Regions from separate parts of the Homo sapiens genome. Here all the other regions are linked to region 3. The links come from fine-mapping of genetic effects on gene expression. A gene starts in region 3. Each other region holds a variant in brackets. All regions are shown on one strand. Distances are from middle to middle. Region 1 has its middle 58 kb from the start of OPN4. Region 2 has its middle 46 kb from the start of OPN4. Region 3 holds the start of LDB3 (LIM domain binding 3). Region 4 has its middle 12 kb from the start of OPN4.

Evidence for each region. PIP is the estimated chance that this variant, and not a neighbour inherited with it, causes the effect.
Region 1: its variant is fine-mapped to the expression of LDB3 in lung (TOPMed, PIP above 0.99).
Region 2: its variant is fine-mapped to the expression of LDB3 in esophagus muscle (GTEx, PIP 0.98).
Region 4: its variant is fine-mapped to the expression of LDB3 in sun-exposed skin (GTEx, PIP above 0.99).

The regions. Positions count from the first base shown.
Region 1 is chr10:86,593,916-86,599,064 of GRCh38, forward strand. No RefSeq gene overlaps it. Among named protein-coding and RNA genes, the nearest start is that of OPN4, 58 kb to the right of the region's middle. RefSeq lists an enhancer at 3,555-4,055. The variant C/T (reference allele first, on the strand shown) is at 3,002.
Region 2 is chr10:86,605,972-86,611,120 of GRCh38, forward strand. No RefSeq gene overlaps it. Among named protein-coding and RNA genes, the nearest start is that of OPN4, 46 kb to the right of the region's middle. The variant TA/T (reference allele first, on the strand shown) is at 2,471.
Region 3 is chr10:86,666,537-86,671,685 of GRCh38, forward strand. LDB3 (LIM domain binding 3) reads left to right here and starts at 1,975. Exons shown (of 14, transcript NM_007078.3): 1 at 1,975-2,034; 2 at 2,133-2,248. The coding sequence starts at 2,156. LOC105378409 (a long non-coding RNA gene) reads right to left here and starts at 13. Exons shown (of 3, transcript XR_001747526.2): 1 at 1-13. RefSeq lists an enhancer at 2,106-2,155.
Region 4 is chr10:86,639,531-86,644,679 of GRCh38, forward strand. No RefSeq gene overlaps it. Among named protein-coding and RNA genes, the nearest start is that of OPN4, 12 kb to the right of the region's middle. RefSeq lists an enhancer at 3,684-3,923. The variant C/T (reference allele first, on the strand shown) is at 3,015.

The DNA.
Region 1 (5,149 bases), 73 kb before region 3:
TCAGCTACTTGGGAGGCTGAGACAGAAGAACTGCTTGAACCTGGTAGGCAGAGGTTGCAGTGAGCCAAGATCATGCCACTGCACTCCAGCCTGGGTGACAGAGTGAGATTCTGTCTCAAAAAAAGAAGAAAAGAAAAGAGAGGAAAGAAAGAAAGGGAAGAAAGAAAGAAAAGGAAGGAATGAAGGAAAAGGATGAAAGAAGGAAAGGGATGGAGGGGAAAGAGAGAAAGGAAAAGAAAGAAAGAAAGAAGAAAAAGAAAGAAATAAAGAAAAAGAAAGGAAAGAAAGAAAGAGAAAAAGAAAGGAAAGAAAGAAAGAGAAAAAGAAAGAAGAAAGAAAAGGAGGAAGAAAGAAAAGAAAAGAGGGAGGGGGAGAAGGAAGGAAGGGAGGAAGGAGAAGAAGGAAAGAAGAAAAGAAAAAGGAAAAGAAAGAAGAAAGAAAACGAAAGAGGGAGGGAAGGAAGGAGAGGGAGGGGGAGGGAGGGGGAGGGAGGGGGAGGGGAGGGGAGGAGAGGGGAGGGGAGGGGAGGGGAGGGGAGGGGAGGGGAGGGAAGGGAAGGGAAGGGAAGGGAAGGGAAGGGAAGGGAAGGGAAGGGAAGGGAAGGAAGGGAAGGGAAGGGAAGGGAAGGGAAGGGAAGGGAAGGGAAGGGAAGGGAAGGGAAAAGCAAGCTTCCTAGGAAGGCAAGGGAAAGGAAAAGCAAGCTTCCTAGGCAGGACAACTCAGCAGAGTCATGGCATTAGGAGAGGACATGATGCAACAGTCCGTGGAGGTTGTGGTTGCCAGGGAAAAGGGGCAGAGGGAGGTTGAAATATACAAAGTTTATTGGAGGATGACATAAACGTCCTGGAATTAGATAGCAGTGATGGTTCTATGACAAGTTTGTCCAACCAGAGGCCCGCAGGCCACATGTGGCCCAGGACATCTTTGAATGCGGTCTGGCACAAATGTGTAAACTTTCTTAAAACATTAGGAGATTTTTTGTGATTCTTTTTAGCTCATCAACTATCGTTAGTGTTAGTGTATTTTATGTGTGGCCCAAGACAATTATTCTTCCCATGTGGCCCAGGGAAGCTAAAAGATTGGACACCCCTGTAATGTACAAGATTGTGAATATACTAAAAATCTCTAAATTGTACACTTTAAAATGGTTAAAATGGTAAATTTTATGACTTGCGAATTTTTTTTTTTTTTGTGATTGAGTCTCACTCTGTTGCCCAGGCTGGATTGCAATGGCGCAATCTTGGCTCTCTGCAGCCTCTGCCTCCCGGGTTCAAGCTATCCTCCTGCCTTAGCCTCCCAAGTAGCTAGGATTACAAGCACGTGCCACCAGGCCCAGCTAATTTTTGTATTTTTAGTAGAGATGGGATTTCACTGTGTAGGCCACTGACCTCCTGACCTCAAGTGATCTGCCCACCTCAGCCTCCCAAAGTACTGGGATTACTGGCATGAGCCACTGCACCCAGCCAACTTGTGAATTTTGTCTCATTTTTTGTCATTGCCTGTTTTGGTTTTGTTTTGTTTTGTTTTTTGAGACACAGTCTTGCTATGTTACCCAGGGTGGTCCTGAACTCCTGGCCTCAAGCGACTCTCCTGCCTTAGCTTCCCGAGTAGCCGGGACTACAGACAGTGCTAAATTTGCCCAGCTTAAATTGTATCTCAACATTTTGAAAAAAGTTAAAGACACCACAATCCATGGTGACCTGACAAGAAGGAGCCAGGGAAATAAGCACCTGACAGCCCCACTCCCACTCCACTTTCCAGATACCCGCTGGTGCCTCCTGCTGACAGAACGCACCTGGGTCAGGGCACTGACACACAATGTGTTTGGATCTGCCTCCCAAGGGACAGGGCAGGGTGGAGAAATGCAAGGGTACACCTGGGGAAATAAATAGAAGGATATTCAGTAAAGCTCCTTGGGTAGCATTTTAGAAGTTTCTAGTAACATTGACACACTGACACTGTACATGTAATGTAATTCAGCAGTTGTTGATACAAGTCAGGGCCTCCCTGGGAAAGGAAGGAATGAGGGGGCCAGTGAAACCAAACCAAGTTGGAGACCTCATAAAGTTCAGGTGCTGGGGTGCACTAATTCTCCCTATTGACTCAGTCATTGAGTCACTTGACTTGTGATTTGAAGAGCTGAAAAGAAGGAGTTCTTCCATTGGACAGCCAAGCCCTGGCTGGTGAAGAGCAGATATCCTTACCTACAGGCCCATGGCAGACACAATACCATGTGCTCACCAAACCGATTTATTTTTCTCCTGGGCACACAGGAGAGCTATGTTTCCCAGCCCCCTAGCATCATGTCGAATTCTGGCCAATGGAATGCGGGGAGAAGTGATGTGTGCCTTTTTCAGGGGTGGCTCTTCAAACTTTTCATGCAACCATCCATGTTCTCCCCTTGCCTACCAGCTGGCTGGATGCAGGAGAAGAGTCCAAGATTCCTGGGGACAGTGGAGTTACTGGATAGAGAGCTTGAATTCCTGACTCATTGCTTGCAGGAGAGCTGCTTAACTGGGCACATCTGGGTTGGACTTGGCATGAACCAGTGGTGAGAAATGAGGTCTCAGTCCAACAGCCAACGGGGAATTAAGGTTGGCCAACAACAACATGAGTGACCTTGAAATGGGAGCCTCCTCCAGTTGAGCCTTCAAATGACTGCAGCCCGTTGGTGGCACATGCCTGTAGTCCCAGTTACTCAGGAGGCTGAGGCCGGAGGATAACTTGAGCCCAGGAGTTTGAGGCTGTAGTTATGACATTATGATTGTGCTTGTTAATAGCCACTGCACTCCAGCCTGGGCAACAGAGTGAGACCCCGTCTCTTAAAACAACAACAACAACAACAACAAAACTGCAGCCTGAGCCAATATCTTGTCTGCAACCTGATGAGAGATACTGAGGCAGAACCCAGTTATGCTGCTCCTGGATTCCTGACCCCCATAACCATAGATAATAAATGTTTGTTGTTTAAAGCTGCTAAATCTGGGGTTAATTTGTTATG[C/T]GGAGATAGATAACTAATACAGTAATACAGTTCATTTGTCATTTTTTTTGTTTGTTACAGTGGGTAAATCTTGGACCCATTTTGGAACCTGTTTTCATTCAAGGTGTGAGGTGTAGACCAAACTTTCTTTTTTCAAAAGGATAGTCAATGGTCTCAATAATATTTATGGAATATCCATCCTTTCCACAGACTTAAAATGCTACTTTCATTTACTACCTCTGGTATTATAGTGAAGCTTTTGGTGTCTTGGTATCTAGACTCTCTTTATCAGGATGGTACACAACCCCCAACCCCTTGTAGCTGACAGCTCATATTTGCATTTTTTTTTTTTTTTTTTGAGATGTTCACCTTCTCTGCCAACACCTGCAAGGCCCTCGCCTTGAGGCTGGAAGACGAAGGTGCGGTCTGAGGCCTCCCGTGGCATAGCCCATGTGAATTTGGGGGAGCAAGCCTGGCTGAGTGTTCCTCCTGACCCGGCTGGGACACCACCATGCACCCAATCCACCTTGAGCCCTGCTCGCCTTCCACGTGCAGCTGCTGAGGACAGAAGGAAAGTAAGCACTCCAGCCCGGCTCTGCCTTCTCCCACCGCGCAGACTCTGCCTCGGCACCTGCAAGAGGAGGTGACTAGGAACTGACACCCCTGGCACCTTCACCGATACCCTGTTACCTGCTGTGTGCACCCGGACCTGAACAGATGCGCTCCCGCCTGGCTTAGCTCTCTGTGGCTGTTCTCCCTCCTTTCGGTCATGCTCCTTAATTGGACTCCCTCCAAGGCACTGTTGGTTCCTCTTTTGTTTTGTCTTTTGTTTGTTTGTTTGTTTGTTTGTTTGTTTGTTTTGAGATGGAGTCTCGCTCTGTCGCCCAAGCTGGAGTGCAATGATGGCAAGATCTCTGCTCACAGCAACCTCCACCTCCCGGGCTCAAGAGACTCTCCTGCCTCAGCCTCCTAAGTAGCTGGGATTACAGACAGGCACCATCATGCCCAGCTAATATTTTTTGTATTTTTGTAGAGACAGGGTTTCACCATGTTGGCCAGGCTGTTCCTGAACTCCTGACCTCAGATGATTCCTGCCTCGGCCTCCCAAAGTGCTGGGATTATAGGCGTGAGCCACTGTGCCCGGCCGTTTTGTCTTGTTCTTAAGGAAGATTCAGCCTCACAGCACAAGCATCGGCTCGTAGAGTAGAAATTTCCCAGACAGAGAGCCTTTTAAAATAAAAATATACCTCTTTGAATTACCATTTTGTTGCTACAGCAATGCTATAGCAGTATGAGGAGGTGGTAGGGGGTGGGTGGGTATTTTTCCAAAAAGAAAGATGTCTTGGGGCCTATTAATTGCCCTGCCCAAATGTTCTCACTGCAGTGTGACCACATCACCAGCTGTTGTCTGTCTCACTTACAGAAATTCAGAAATGCTGGCATCATCAAGACATCCCCAATGATGAGATTTCTGGGTGATGTAAATCCACAAACTTTTAGGCTTTGCTTTAGTCAGGGTCCTGGCAGGAAAAAGATGATGCACTCAAACTGAGTAATTGGAGGAAGCTTTGATAAGAGACTGTTTAGAAACCTGTGCGCAGGGCCTAAGGACTCCAGCAAGGGCTACTGCAGTGCCTCAAGGTTGGGAACAGCTTGACCAGGAGGGGCAGGAGATGGAAGAGATTATGGAAGAGGAGAGTGTAGTATATGGAGAGGGACACTAGACAAGGGGTATGGCATTTGGTGAAGGGACACAACCAACTTATGGCAGAGGGCACAACCCAGCAGGAGGAAAGCTGGAAATACTCACCTGCCCTCACTTATTCCCTTCCACCCATCTCCTGTGGTCCTTCCCGCTGGCCAAGCCCATCTGCAAGTGTTACAGGGAAGGGGTCTCGATCTACACCCCAAGAGAGGGTTCTTGGATCTTGTGCAAGAAAGAATTCAGGGCGGGTCCATAGAATACAGTGAAAGCAAGTTCATTAGGAAAGTAAAGGAATAAAAGAATGGCAACTTCATAGGCAGAGCAACCCCAAGGGCTGCTGGTTGCTCATTTTATGGTTATTTCTTGACGATATGCTAAACAAGGGGTGGATTATTTATGCCTTTTGTTTTTAGACCATATAGGGTAACTTCCTGACGTTGCCATGGCATCTGTAACTGTCATGG
Region 2 (5,149 bases), 61 kb before region 3:
ATACTAATATTAATTAGAATTTTACCTCTTCCCAGGAATGCAAGGACCTTAGACTATTTTAACCCCATTTACCACATATACAATTTTTGTGCTATGTGATAGATTTTAATTCTACATTTCTTTAAAACCCTACAAGATTTTTTTTTTTTTTTTTTTGAGACGCAGTCTCACTCTGTCGCCCAGGCTGAATGGAGTGCAGTGGCTTGATCTCGGCTCACTGCAAGCTCCGCCTCCCGGGTTCACACCATTCTCCTGCCTCAGCCTCCCGAGTAGCTGGGACTACAGGTACTCGCCACCACGCCTGGCTAATTTTTTGTATTTTTAGTAGAGACGGGGTTTCACCGTGTTAGCCAAGATGATCTCGATCTCCTGACCTTGTGATCCACCCGCCTCAGCCTCCCAAAGTGCTGGGATTACAGGCATGAGCCACCGCGCCCGGCAAAACCCTACAAGATATTATAATTGTTGTCTTACACAGCCAATATTCATTAGACTTATCCAAATAACTACCATTTCATTGGTTTTCTTTTCTTCCTGAATCTCCAATCTTTCTTCTAGAATCATTTCCCTCTATCTGAAGAGATGAGACCTGTTTAGTTTTTCCTTCAGTGTGGTCTTCTGAAAGCAAATTATTTTGTTTTTGTTTCCCTAAAAATGTGTTTATTTAAACTTCATTCTTGGCTGGGCATGGTGGTTCATGCCTGTAATCCTAGCATTTTGGGAGGCTGAGGCAGGTGGATCGCTTGAGCCCAGGAGTTTGCGAACAGCCTGGGAAACATGGTGAAACCCTGTTTCTACAAAAAATACAAAAATTAGCCGGGCATGATGGCAGGTGACTGTAGTTCCAGCTACTCAGGAGGCTGAGGTAGGAGGATCACCTGAGCCCAGGAAGTTAAGACTGTGGTGAGCCGTGATCATGCCACTGCAATGAGTGGCATGAGTTTGGGTGGGAGAGTGAAACCCTATCTCAAAAATAAAAATAATATTTTTTTTGAGACAATCACCCTCTGTTACCCAGGCTGGAGTGCAGTGGCACAATCTTGGCTCACTGCAACCTCTGCCTCTTGGGTTCAAGCAATTCTCCTGCCTCAGCCTCCTGAGTAGCTGGGATTAGAGGTGCCCACCACCACACCCAGATAATTTTTGTATTTTTAGTAGAGATGGGGTTTCACCATGTTGACCAGGCTGGTCTCACACTCCTGACCTAAAGTGATCTGCCCACCTCAGCCTCTCAAAGTTCTGGGATTACAGGTGTGAGCCAGTGTGCCCAGCCAAAAAATTTCATTTTTGAAGGATATTTTACTAAATATAAAATTCTAAGTTGTTAATTATTTTCTTTTATCACATTAAACATAATTTCACTGTCTTCTGGATTTTGTAGTTGCTAATAAGAAATCAGTTGTCAGTCTGTCTGTTCCTCTGAAGATAATCTACTTTTTTCTGTTCTGCTTGTTTTTAAAATTTTCTCTTTATTTTTGGTTTTCTGCAGTTTTACAATGAAGCATCTGGGTGTGATTTATGTTAATGCTGTGTATGGCTGGATGTAGTGGCTCACCCCTGCAATCCCAACACTTTGGGAGACTGAATGGAAGGATTGCTTGAGGCCAGGAGTTCAAGACCAGCCTAGGCAACTTAGCGAGACCCTGTCTCTACAAAAAAAAAAAAAAAAGAAAGAAAATTAGCAGAGCATGGTGGCTCATGTCTGTATCCCCAACTACTCAGGAAGCTGAGGTGACAGAATCACTTGAGCCTGGGGGTTCAAGGCTGTAGTGAGCTATGATCACACCACTGCACTCCAGCTTGGGTGACAGAGTGAGACTCTGCCTCTAAGTAAATAAATAAATTAAGTACTGTGTGTGATTTTGGGGGCTTCTTGAATCTGTGGACTGATATCTTTCATCACCATTTCTGCATCATGTCCTTGAATCATCAGTTCTGGAAGTCTCATTCATTATTCAAGTATTGCTTTTGCCCTATTTCTTCTTTCTTCTGGAATTCCAATTAAATGTATATTGGTCTTTCTTACTGTGCCCTCTATGTCTCTGATCTTCTCTTCCATTTGTCATCCATTTATCTCTCTGTGCTCCATTCTGGATGAATTCTTCTAACTTGTCTTATTTATTTACTCTGTTTTTAGACTCATCCATTGAGTTTTTAATTTGTGTTATTATGTTTTTTAGTTCCTGAATCTTCAATGTCTGTTTTTATAGTTTCCAATATTTTGCTGAAATTTTTGAGTTCAGTTTTTAACCCTATGATGATAGTAAGATAGTTTTTTCCCCCTCATCTCTGTCTAATAATTCCACTATCTGGAGTATCTGTGAGCCTCTTTCTGTTTTCTATTGTTCCTGCTTACTTTTGTTCTTATTTTATTTCTTGTTATGCCTGGTTATCTTTGATTGTGTGTTAGAAACTGTACTTGAAAAATTTATTGGAGCAATTTTAGTACTAGGATGATATCATCTTCCTT[TA/T]GAAATGATTTTCATTTACTTTTGCAAATGTGTGGGGACATTAGCAATCCAGGACCATTGTAATCCATTTTAGTGCTTGAGATTTTTCTGAATCACCCAGATTTCTTGAAACTGAGCTACAGTAAAGGGGAAGGCTAGTTTACTTTTTGTTTACTTTTACTTTCAGGGTTTAGTCAATCAAAATTCCACTTCTAAAGTATGGGGTGGTTTTCCAGAGTTACCCTTCCCTTGGAAAGGCCGAGCCTCCTCAGTGTTTTAACTACCTTTTCTGATTGACAAAAGTGGCCCAAATGCTGAGCTCTTCTCTCTGGATTTCTACCAAGGGATATTGACCCTTGACAATTTCTTGCAACTTGTTAGCTTTTCTTTGTTTTAGAAAGAAGCTTTTTGTTTGTTTCTGGTTTGTTTTGAGACAGAGTCTTACTCTGTTGCCTGGGCTGGAGTGCAGTGGCACAATCTCGGCTCACTGCAGTTTCCACCTCCTGGGTTCAAGCAATTCTCATGCCTCAGCCTACCGAGTAGCTGAGGCTACAGGCATATGCCACCATGCCTGGCTATTTTTTGTATTTTTAGTAGAGACAGGGTTTTGCCATGTTGGTCAAGCTGGTCTAGAACTCCTGGCCTCAAGTGATCCACCTGCCTCAGCCTCCCAACGTGCTGGGGTTATAGGCATGAGCCTCCACACCTGGCCAGAAGCTTTTTATATTCCATATGGATTATTTCAGTTGTGTTTGGTGGGAGGGTAGTTCCAAATTATCTAGTTAACTATTTCTGTATGTGAAAGTTCTCTACTTGCTCTAACATTGAAGAATACCTTGGTATCTCTTTAGGGGACTGATGAATGCAGGAGGACAAATACCACAGATGATCTGCAATCGTATATAATAATACAAAGTAGACTGATTTTGAGTTTTTTTCTTGTAATTCAATACTGTGGCCCTTAAAACTGTACATAATAATTTGCTCCAGAATTTCTGATCCCAGAAAGCTGCCTATGGAAATAATTAATTATAGATGTTTGAAATTATTCATTTATAAAGGAATTTTTAACAAAACTGGTAATTAACAGAAGACTAGTTAAAATAAAATAGGCTTCTCTCATAGGATAAGATATTGCACAGCCATTAATACTATAGGATAATATCTAATGGCATAGAGAAGTCATACCATAATGAGAATTGAAACTAGTCAATCATAATATGAACCCTTTTAATATAGTTACATATGCTGGAAATATCACTGAAAATATATTGACTAAAATGCTAAAAGTGGTTATCTCAGGGTTGTGAGATAACTAGTGCTTTTATCTACTGCCTTTTGCTTTTTAATATTTTTGTAATTTTGAAAATTATATACTTATAATTTTCTAAAATGAACATTTATCACTTTTGTAATGGAAAGTGAACTACAAAATAAAATGCTACAAGTGAAACCAGATGTTTTTATTATGTTGTGTTGGAAAATTTATCAATGTAAATAGCCCATAATTTAGATTAAAGAAGTCTTTTTGAATATCTAATATATGTCAGCCTCTTTCATACATATATTTTCACTAATGCTTATAAGTGCTCAATTTTCAGTCACAATGTAGTAATTAGTAATTGAAACAATCTAGACTGTTCAAAAGGAAGTCAAGTGGACAGATTGATTGGTACAAGGTGAATGGTATGATTTTCATAGTCAGCAAATTCCTCCAACAAAGGCCAGATAATGGGCAAGGTGAGCTCTTCCAGACATTATAATTTACCCTAATAGGATAGATGTTGAGTTATAAAAATGTCATAAATACTGTAAAAATGAGAAATATGAGAATGGAAAAATAACAGCAATATTCATATACTCTACTGCAGCAATAGTTAACATCTTGGAATATGCAGGTGATTGGATTATTGATTCCAACCATCTGCTTCCTTTCCTGTAAGAGGATTATACATGTGATCTGCAGTGGCTTTCCAAAGTCAGAGTATAGTTCTTTGACCTGCTTTGGCCAATGGGATGTGAACAGGAGTAATATCCACCACAGATGAGCCAAACCTTTAAGAGCTATTAGATGTTTCAGCTCTATCCTGTTTGTTTCCCTTTGCCACAAGAATGACATGTCCTAAAAAGAGGCTGCTCCTTCAGGCTAGCCCTGGAATGAGATGATACATGAAGCAGAGCCACCACCACTGATTTGCAGACACCAACATGCAATGTGAATGAGAAATAAATGTATATTATAGTAAGCCATGAGATTAGGTGGTGGGGGGTGCTGTTTGTTATCACAGCAAAGCTGACTAATACATTGTTTCCTCAAAAATACAATAGCAGCTCTCTTAACCAAGCTCCACTTAACTGACTTTCCAGATTGACACATGTTCTCCTTTCCTTCCTTTTTTTTTCTAACTTTTCTTTTGAGAAAGTCTTACTCTGCTGCCCAGGCTGAAGTGGAGTGGTGCGATCATAACTCACTGCAGCCTCGACCTCCTGGGCTCAAGAAATCCTCCCACCTCAGCCTTCCAAGTAGCTGGGACTACAGGCATGTGCCACCACGCCCAGCTATTTTTTTTTTTTTTTTGAGATGGAAACTTGCTCTGTCACCCTGGCTGGAGTGTAGTAGTATGATCTCAGTTTACTGCAACCTCTGCCTCTTGGGTTCAAGCAATTCTCCTGCCTCAGCCTCCTGAGTAGCTGGGATT
Region 3 (5,149 bases):
TCCTCTCCTTCCTCTGTCCCCACTCTTGGGACTCTCACTCTGAGGCCCACCTCAAACTGCAAGGAGTACAGCAGAGAAGGGACAAAGGCCAGGCTGGCCTCCATCCCCACTCACTCCCCAGTGAGCCATTGAACTCCGCCCAGACCATGGGTACCAGCTGCTCTCTGACTGGCTTCACATCTCCCGAGGGAGGCGGATGGAGGGAGGCCGGCCTTCGCCTTTAAGAGCACTCTCCTGCCACCCCTCCCTTTCCCCAGAGGCGAGCTTCATCAGGCAGGAGCCAGAGGCCAGAGAGACAGCGTGCAGCTCCAGGTACAGCCTCCCCCAGCTCCCTGGCCCTGAGGGTGGGTGCCTTCCTTCTCCCACACTGGTTATGCCCTGCTGCTGAGTCCTCCCCAGCCTGGCAGGATGGACAAACACCCCTAGGAAAGGGCATAAGGCTGGAGTTAGGGATGAATGACATGGGGCTTTGCAGAGAGGGATAGGGAATGGTATGGGGAAGGGATGCTGGCCATGGACTGCTGGCCTCCTGGGCTGGGCTGCATGATATAGGGTGAAGGAAGTGATTAAGCAGGGAAAAGGACACAGGTCTTTTCCTGACTTCTTCCACTTGATAGTTTTGTGACTTTGGGCAAGTGACAAAACAACCCCGTAATATGGGTGATCCTACCTTGTACCTTGCATGTGCCAGGCCCCAGGAGTGAGGCTAGAAGCTGAGAAATGACTCACACCCAGGCCTCTACTGACTCCTCAGGGTCCAAGCCAGACCCCTCCAAGAGGGCCAGCAAGCAGCCAACCCAGTTGCCTCCCCTGAGCCTCAGTTTCTCCAACCAAGGAGCCAGGGTGGGCCTTGATCTATCTCCAGACCACATAGGGGCCTGAGGTCTTTCTTGGGGAAGGGGTTGGCCCAAAGACCGCACTGGCAGAAGTCCCAAGGTGCTGAGGCCCCCATCCAGAACACACTGTCTCTGGGGTACAGGCTGAACATGCCACACGTGCTTCCCCCTCCCTGCCCCTCCTGGCCCTGTGTCTAGCAGCTGAGCAAATGGCGTCTCCTCCCTTCTCCCTGCCCCCTGCCATTCCTGCGCAAAGGGCACGGGGCCTGGCGTGTGGCACTGGCAGCTGGAGCTTTCCATGCTGCCGTCAAGTTTTCCAGAGCACAAAGACAGGAGAGCCAGGAATAACTGGCTGGGCCCCCAGAGGGTCTGGAGGGGATGGGCCTGCCTCAGACCTGCTTTCAGACCCTATGCCAAGGGGTGCAGGCAGAGGGCCAGCTGCCCAGGACCAGGGCTTTGGGAGGCTTCTGTGGCTACTGGGAGCCCATTATCTGGCATGCATTCTGTAGGAATCAGCCCAGGCTCCAGTGTGACCTGGGTCCACTCCTTGTGTGACCTTGGAGAAGTCATTTAACCTCCCTGAGCTTTGTCTCCTGCGGGCCCAGGTGGCAGCTTCTCAGGATCCCAGGGAGTGAAGGGCCCATACTGAGGTTGGCTATGCCCAGAGCTGCTGTTATGATGATCGTTTTTATGGCTGGACAACCCTGGGCCAGTCACAGACCAGCTGGAGGCTCAGCTCAAGCCAAGGCACCTCCAGGGCCCCATACTGGATAAAGCACAACCCCAGAATCCTGGCCAGGGACCACACGGCAGCAAAGCCCCTACCCAAGGGAGCTCAGCCCCTGGTCTTCTGAGCAAGAGGATGGGTACCACTGGGCAGGAAGAGCGAGTGTCTACGCTCTCCAGAGGACACAGGAGCAAGGAGACCAGAGCATTCTCACCAACCAGGCCAGTTCCCCTTCCTCCCCCCTGGGGGGTGCTGGGTGCCGGACACCCCTCCCCAGGGGCTATATTAGCCGTGTGAGTCATGGTGGACCGGCTGGGAGGCGGCAGGCTGGCAGGCACAGTGTAGGGTTACAGTCCATTTATGGGCGCAGCCGAAGGCAGATATCAGTGTCGATGGCATTCGCTCCCAGCTATTCTTAGGAGCCTCTCAAGAGCTCCACGCAGCCCGGCTGGGCAGCAAGGGACAGAACAGGCAAGGCTGGGGGTCAGGGGCAGGGGCAGAGGTGTGGACCGGGCAGGCGGAGTGCCTGAGTGCCCTCTCACTCAACCCTCTCTACCCTTTGTCTGCAGAGGCGGCCGCTGACAGCACCAGCATGTCTTACAGTGTGACCCTGACTGGGCCCGGGCCCTGGGGCTTCCGTCTGCAGGGGGGCAAGGACTTCAACATGCCCCTCACTATCTCCCGGGTGAGTGCACCCTGCCACAGCCTGGCACCCGATGGGGCAGGCACGCTTGGAGGAGGGCATGTGTGTCCGTCTGTCTGTCTGTCCTTTCTGAGCCTCTCAGAAAGCAGAGCATGCCCCATCCCCTGGGACTGGCCTGGTCCTCTGGTCTCAGCCACAGCTGTTTGCTCACTGGAGCGCGCCGGCCTGTTATGCATGTGAGACATCATGAGCAGGTGGTAGGTGTTTTTAGCAGAGAAGAAAATGCTGAGTTTTCAGGCAGGCAGGCAGGCAGGCAGGCAGGTAGCTGGACAGAGAGTACAGCACCTTCCTGATCCCTTTACTGTTAGAGTGGGCTCAGGGTGCCCCCAAGCCTTGAGCATTTCCCTAGATATGGGCAGCTGCTTTGGGAAGGGAGTATTCCCAGCATGGAGAGGGCAGGTGATGGGCAGTTGGATAGATGGACAGACAGACGGTTGACCTTGGCTGCCCAGCTGTCAGAGTGTGGGGCTGGGCTGGACTGAGTACTGGGCACCTGCTCCATCCCAAACTTGAGACACCAAGACCCTGGCTCATGGGGCTGGGCGCTTCTCCCCATTCACCATGGCTGCTTTGTCTGTCTCAGGTCTTGTTCCCCACAAGTGCTGGGGCCTGGTGAGATGGCCCCCTATCCTGCAGTGTCTGTGATGGGGAGCAGCATGGCCTGATGCAGATGACACAGAACATCAGGGGTTGTCTGAGTAACTCTACCGCCTGGCTGGAGACAGCAACACCAGAGAGGCAGAAAGTTAGCCATGCTCCTGAGGAAGCACTCCAGGAGCAGGGACTGATGGGGGAACAGCCCCCAGACCGTAGTAGGCACTCCGTCAGTTTCTGTCAAACAAAGAGACTCCCCAGCAAGGCACTGGTAGACCCAGGGCTGAAGGCCCCAAGGCTCAGGGCGAACTGTGAGGCATACAGGGCAAGGACAACCCTGCCTGGTGGCTGAGCCCCTGACCGTGCTGTTCCGGGCACAAGGCCAGAGGGGGAGGCCCCCAGTCTGTCACTGGAGGGTGGTAGGTAGGCAGGGGTATCTGGGCTACTGCCCACCAGGGGAACAAGGGGACAGTTTCTTCTCTGGGGCCTTAAGGACTTGCCTTGGGCCTGGGGGCTGGAGGAAGGGGTTGGAGGGGAAGCACTGAAGTGGGCAAGGCCTGAAGGGGCTTGGCAGAGGGGCCAGGGAACCTGGGCAGCGGGTCAGGAGCCAATGCCCCCAGTGGAGGAGTAATCTTTTTTTTGTTCCACGGGTACTTGAGGGGACCCCAGAAGTAGAAGCCCCACCCAGGGATGCCGTGAGAGCCTTATAATAGCCATAGAGGCCACATGCTTACAGGAGGGGTGCTGGCCTGGCTCTGGTGCAGGGAACAGGCCCTGACCTCCATCCTTCAGTTGCAGATGTGGCTTGTTCTAACCTGGAGATTCCACCCCTCCAGATCTACTGCCCTGGAGACCACAGGGTCCTGGGCACCCACAGCCTTGCACACTTTGCATGAGGTGGTGACCTGTGAGCATGTGAGCCCCAGTGGATTTCCCACTGCCCTTTCCCACAGCTCCCCACCCCCATGCTTGCAGGACTCCTTCCTGTATAAGGTGGAGCCTCTGTGTGCTCTCTCATGGGCCCTGTGGCCTCCCCTGCCTGGGACTGAGCCCACATCTCCCCCAGCTCCACCATCTCGAGGCCTCCTGCTGGTGCTCCCTGCCCTATCCCTATGGGTGCAAATTGGCCACTGGGCTCAGTGGCACTCAGGATAGCCAATGACCTCACCCAGGGTCTATGTGCCACCTGGCCCCGGCCAGCCAGGGGCTTAAATGGCAGCCCAGAAGCCTTAAGCTAGATAGCAGGAGGAATGTCCTTACTCTGGGGAGGGGGTATGCAGGGATGTGCTGGATCCAATGACTGTGGGGACTTCTAAAAATAGAACCCGAAGCTCGGGCAGGGCACCGGGGGATGGGCATGATATGGCCTCTCGGCTTCCTTTAGGGGCATACCCCAAATCACCTAAGCCGCGGAGCAGGCTGGACTGGGTACTGGAGCCTTCCCCAGGGCTCGGAGCCTCTTGAGAAATTTTGGTGGTAGGCTGCTGATAGCCTGGGCTTGTGTCCTGGTTCAGTGCCGCTGGCAGGGCAGGCCTTGTGGACACAGCCCTGCCATCCCACCAGGGCTGTAGGATTTACTGCCGGGGCTCGCAGGGCCCTTCTGCACCAGGGACATCCCCCTACGGGGGAGGCATGGCCAGAGCTCTCTGGAGGAACCCCACTCCCACCCCAGCCAGGACCTGAGCCTGTGCCATAGGGCACCAGAGGCAAGAGTGTGTGACCCTGTGGGGTGGGCAGGCAGGCGAGGCTGGGATCGTTACCTCGCTTCAGAGCCTGGCAAACTGAGGCTCGAGTCTGCTCACAGGACAGGGATGTCCATGGGTGGATCTCCTGTATCCTGTCACCCCTAACTCCCATGCTGGCTTGCTCACCCCTCTAACTGGGACTAATAGAGAGGCACTGGGGAGGGTCTGTCCCCTCTCAGCTGCAGGTGTGTGCTGCAGCTCCTCCTGGAAGGACACAGGCCACCTGCAGGCTGGGTGGTGGCTCCCGGGGGCTCATGGCAGCAACTTTGGGGCAGCAGCAGCCCCTCAAGGCATCCCTTCATAGGGTCTCTGCTTGCAGACCCACAGAGAAGGGAGTTCAAGAGGGAGACTGGGAAAGGAGGGTGGCGGGGAAATGCCTTTATTTATCCTGGACAGGTGTGGCTGGGCCTGCAACATGAGCTGCCCTTTCACCCCACCCCAGCCAGTTCTCCAGGAAGTGGAGAAGGGGGAGCAGCCCAGAGAGGGAGCAGCTCCAAAGGCCTCTGCCCTGGCAGCTGGCCAGAGGCTGGGGCTGTGGTCTGGG
Region 4 (5,149 bases), 27 kb before region 3:
TCAGATGACCTAAAGTGTTTTTTTGATTTTCATGAACAAATAGTGAAAATGATATATTATAATTCAATTTCCTAGAGCTGGGGTATCTATAAGGCTGTTTTTTGTGATTTTTTTTTTCTTGAGACAGGGTCTTGCTCTGTTGCTCAGGCTAGAATGCAGTGGTGCAATCACAGCTCACTGCAGCCTCAACCTCCTGGGCTCAAGCAATCCTCCCACCTCAGCCTCCCAAGTAGGTGGGACTACAGATGTGTGCCACCACCCCTGGCTAATTTTTGTATGTTTTGGAAAGACAAGGTTTCACCATGTTTTCTAGGTTGAGAACTCTTGGCCTCAGGTGATCCACTCATCTCAGTTTCCCAAAGTGTTGGGATTACAGGCATGAGTCACCACACCTGATCGTTATAATGCTCTTTTTGATCTCTTCCAATGTTAACTGATTTTTCCTCAGTCCACTCCAGGGTGCCGGACTTGTCTTGTTTTAAAGAGTATATAAAGGTTGAATTTTTAGGGAGAAGTTTGGAACTCAATTCCTACAGTATCCTTCTGACCCAGAAATCCCTTTGGTTGTTTTTTAAGTTATGGGGGTAGGGAAAGCCAATATTTTTTTATACTGCCTGGATGGATGAAAAGACCTTCCTTTGATATTAAATGACCTAAGTATCTTATTTGTTTTTCTCTAAACTGAAATCTTTCTTTTGAGGTCTGTGTCCCTTTAAGCTCATTGTTGTAAAAAGTGCAGCCCATCATCTATAGAGGCTTTGCCTAGCCTCTGAGCAGAGGAGTAAATCATCTACATATTGTGAAAAGTGTGTTGGGATCTCAATGTATCCCTGGAGCAGGATGTCCATGTGTATTGTCTGTTTTCTCAAGTGAAAATGAAAACAAATTGACTGTCTTTATCCACAGAAGTACTAAAGAACACACTACATAAATCTATTACAGTAAAGAACGTGCCTTTGGTAAGAATGGCATCAACATGTATGGAGGTTTAGCACTCCTGGATAATGAGGAATGACTATGTTGTTAATTGTTCTCAGATCCTATACAAACTTCTATCCTCTACCATTTAGTTTCCTTACAGGAAGGATTGGAGTATTACATGTACCTCTTTTTATATAGCCTGGAACTACAGGTTTTATTCCTATTATAGCTTCTACTTTTAAAGGGTACTGGCCAGATGTGATGGCTCATGCCTGTGATCCTAATACTTTGGGAGGCCAAGGCAGGTGGATTGCATGAGCTCAGGAGTTTGAGACCAGCCTGGGCAACATGGCGAAACCCCATCTCTACAAAAAATACAAAAATTTAACTAGGCATGGTGTTGTGCACCTGGGGTCCCAGCTACTGAAGAAGCTGAAGTGGCAGGATTGCTTGAGCCCAGGAGGCAGAGGTTCCAGTGAGCACAGATCACATCACTGCACTCTAGCCTGGGTGACAGAGTGACACCCTGGCTCAAAAAAAGAACAGTTCACAGTTAAGTTACATAAACATCTGTTAAACTTAACAAAGTCACTCAATCCATATATGATGAATTTAAAATACTTTAAAAATAAATAAATAGAGGGTATTGCTTAAGGTTTGGAAGGTGTTTTGATGGATCTATTTGAACTTTGATTGGGGAAGCCAAGATGATTATTCCAATATCAGCAGAAGATTTTAACCACAATTGATCAGGTACTACCTTTAGCAGGTTTTGTAATTTTCATTACTCAATAATTCAGTGTCTACTATGGCAATATAGATTGCAATTAAATTAGATTTTGAAAAACTTTTTATGTCCAGTAACTCAGTTTTATCATCTAATTCTAAATACATTTTCCCTTTTTGGGAGAAAGAAGTGTATTATATAATTTTAAGTCTTTTTCTATAAGATGGATGGGAGCTGATTCAACCAAAAGGAAAACATAAGTCCCTTGTAAGTGACGTAGCTGAAAAGCTACAGGCTGAGATTTATAAACCAATACAGGAGTATTTGTGACACCCACCATTTGAATTTTTTGTTTACTCCAAGGAATGAATCTTGTAATAAGGTGAGATTTATTACAGATAATGTGGCTCCAGTGTCAACAAAAGCTTGTGTTCATACTCCATTTAAAATAATTATTTTTCCCAAAGTAGAGCCAGGGTCATAAGCACAAATATTTAATTTAAATTTCCTGAGAAAACCAATGTCCTGGTCCTGGTGAGAATCAGGAAATTCCTGAACTATGTCTTTAAGTTTTACCTTTGACCATGATTGAGAAACTAGGGTAGGTTCTCCCCTACCAGACACTGGCTGTTTGAGAAATGGAGCTGGAACAGTAGAAGCAGAAGGAGGAGGAGGTAGATCTGGGCAAGGTACTAAAGGATAAAGAGAAGGAGAAGATAATAAAGGATAATAAAGAATAAAGAGACAGAGGAGCTGAGGGAGGAGGATAAATTTCAGCAGTCTTTAATTCAGAATTTTTTAAGACAACTTTTTGTTCTCTTGTAAAGAAATAACTTTATTATAACCTCTTTAGAAGCTTCCAAGCCTCATTGAAAATAACTCTCCCAATTATTTTGTTTTATCTTATAGCTGACTTTTTCTCATTGAGCACACAATTAAATTAGTTTAGGCATTTCAAAGGTACTACATTTTGTCCATTGCAAATGTTAGGATTTTCTTGGGTCAAGTAAGACCATTTTTCCAAATATTGACAGGAGGTGGTGCCATAAGTATTGTACATAAATCCAGCTGGAGTTTCTAAAGATGGATTCTTTCTTAAAGAGGACTCAGTTTTAGATGGAAGATGGACCATAATTTGGATTTTCTTTTTAAGTGACCAAAGACTCAAAGAGAAAGATGTCTTATTTTTTAATTTTTAAATTTTATTTATATGTTTATTTTGAGATGAAGTCTCTCTCTGTCACCCAGGCTGGAGTACAGTTGCGCTATCTCAGCTCACTGCAACCTCCGCCTTCCAGGTTGAAATGATTCTCCTGCCTCAGCCTCCCAAGTAGCTGGGATTACAGGTGCCCACCACTATACCTTG[C/T]TAATTTTTGTATTTTTAGTAGAGGCAGGGTTTCACCACGATGGCCAGGCTAGTATCAAACTCCTCATGTTGGGCTCCTTCCCCCTCGGCATCCCAAAATGCTGGCATTACAGGCGTGAGCCACCGTGCCCAGCTGGGAAAGATGTTTTGGATCTGGTATTCTGCTTAACAGGGATTACTCCTCGAGGTGTCACCCATGAGTCACTTCTACTCTCTTATGTGTTTCAGTGAAACCCAGACATTTCTGGAGGCTTAGGGCCCTGGGATACCAACCCTTCATGTATGCCCAACAGGTTAATCAGATTTCCCTGTATGTTCTTCCTTGGGGTTTCCCTGTAGGACCCTTACACAGCAGAAGCTATGACCTCTGACAGTCCTGTGTGGCCTCAGTTACCTAAGGTGCCTTTCAGCTGGGAGGAACAGTGGCCGTTATTTAGGACTTTCTCAGGTCAAGTAAATCACATCCTCAGACAAAGCCTTTAATGAATTTTTGGTCACTCAGAAAGAAAATCTAAATGGCAATTTTAACCCAGCTCCAAAACCTGGTCAGTTTAAAACTGCACATTTAGCTTAAGCCACAAGCATTCACTTTCTCTTTTTAAAAAGAAACTGCTTTCTATTTAACCAATTTTTTTTGAGACAGAATCTCACTCTGTCACCCAGGCTGGACAGTGGAGTACAGTGTGTCAGCTCCCTGCAATCTCCACCTACTGGGTTCATGCAATTCTCGTACCTCAGCCTCCCAAGTAGCAGGGACCACAGACATGCACCATCACGTTCAGCTAATGCTTTGTATTTTTAGTAGAGATTGGGTTTCACCATGTTGGCCAAGCTGGTCTTCAACTCCTGGCCTCAAGTGATCCAACCGCCTCAGCCTCCCAAAGTGCTGGGATTACAGGTGTGAGCCACTGCACCCAGCCCCAAATTTTGAATGGGAGAAAAGTTGCAAACTTTAGCAAGCAAAACAGACAAAATCTTAACCTCAAAAGAAAGTGAAACTACAAACTTGCAAATAACAGAATCTCTAGAGAAATAACAATAAAGTGACTACCTCAAAGCCAAAAGTTGAGCTTCAGTTCTAGCTCTGTTGAGTGTGGAATTGGGTTGCTTGAATAAAGTCTGAATCTCAGCCAGAACTAGGAAGATATGAAACCTGAGAGAAGTCTTACCAGAGACCCCCGCCAGCTCTGATGAGGTCAGACGAGTAAAAGCCACTCATGCTGGTACTAAATCTCCGAATGCCAGCAAAGCAACGAGGATCGCACGAGGCTTGTTTCAGGTCCTATCTGCAGTTGCCAAAATGTCAACTTAAAATAATCAAAAGGATCAGAGTCTAATTTAAAGAGAGTTTATTCAAATACAAAGTTTGAGGATGGCCCACTCAGGAGCATCAACTGCGAAGAGATGGAGGCAGTGTTCTGAAGTAGAGAAATTAGGGTTTCATTTATAGATGCAGAGACAGAGATGTTTTTAGCAGGATTACAACATTTTTCATATGAAGTTGGCACATACTTCCAGCAATTTGATTGATGATAGGCAATGCATCCTTTTTGGAAAGGGTACATTTAGCATTTTGAATATAATGGGTGTAACAGTCATGGGTTTTCTGTCATCTGGTTTAGGCAAAGTAGGACAACAAAGGGGAAGTTAATCTATAACAAGAGTCATTAATTAAGAAGGCAGGAGGCTTTTGTCCCTGATATAATTTAATTCTCTCTAGTCATTGTACAGAACAAAAAAATAAGAAAACAAGTTAATCTATAATCTGAGAAACAGAAGTTGGAACCATATGTGACTAAGATCACATTCACATTTCTCTTAAGGTTTGAAGTGGGTTTTTTTGGGTTCCAACAGCTTTTAAATTATATTTATTTTCACACAAGAAAGCAGGAGGGATGGGACCAGAAACTGCCTTTCAGTGCTATTTCATTTTTAAAGAATGTGCTTGCATCAAGTAGATCACAAATTAAAACCACAACAAACCCAGAAACTCCCTTGTCCTGACAGGAGTTCTCATGCATCAATCTCATCATGTGGTGACTCGCCCCTGTCCCCTGCTGGGGACACAGAGTCCTTGGCGGGGGCGCATGTCTCTTCACACTCGTGTGAAATCGTAGGCTTCTGGTCCTTGGGGA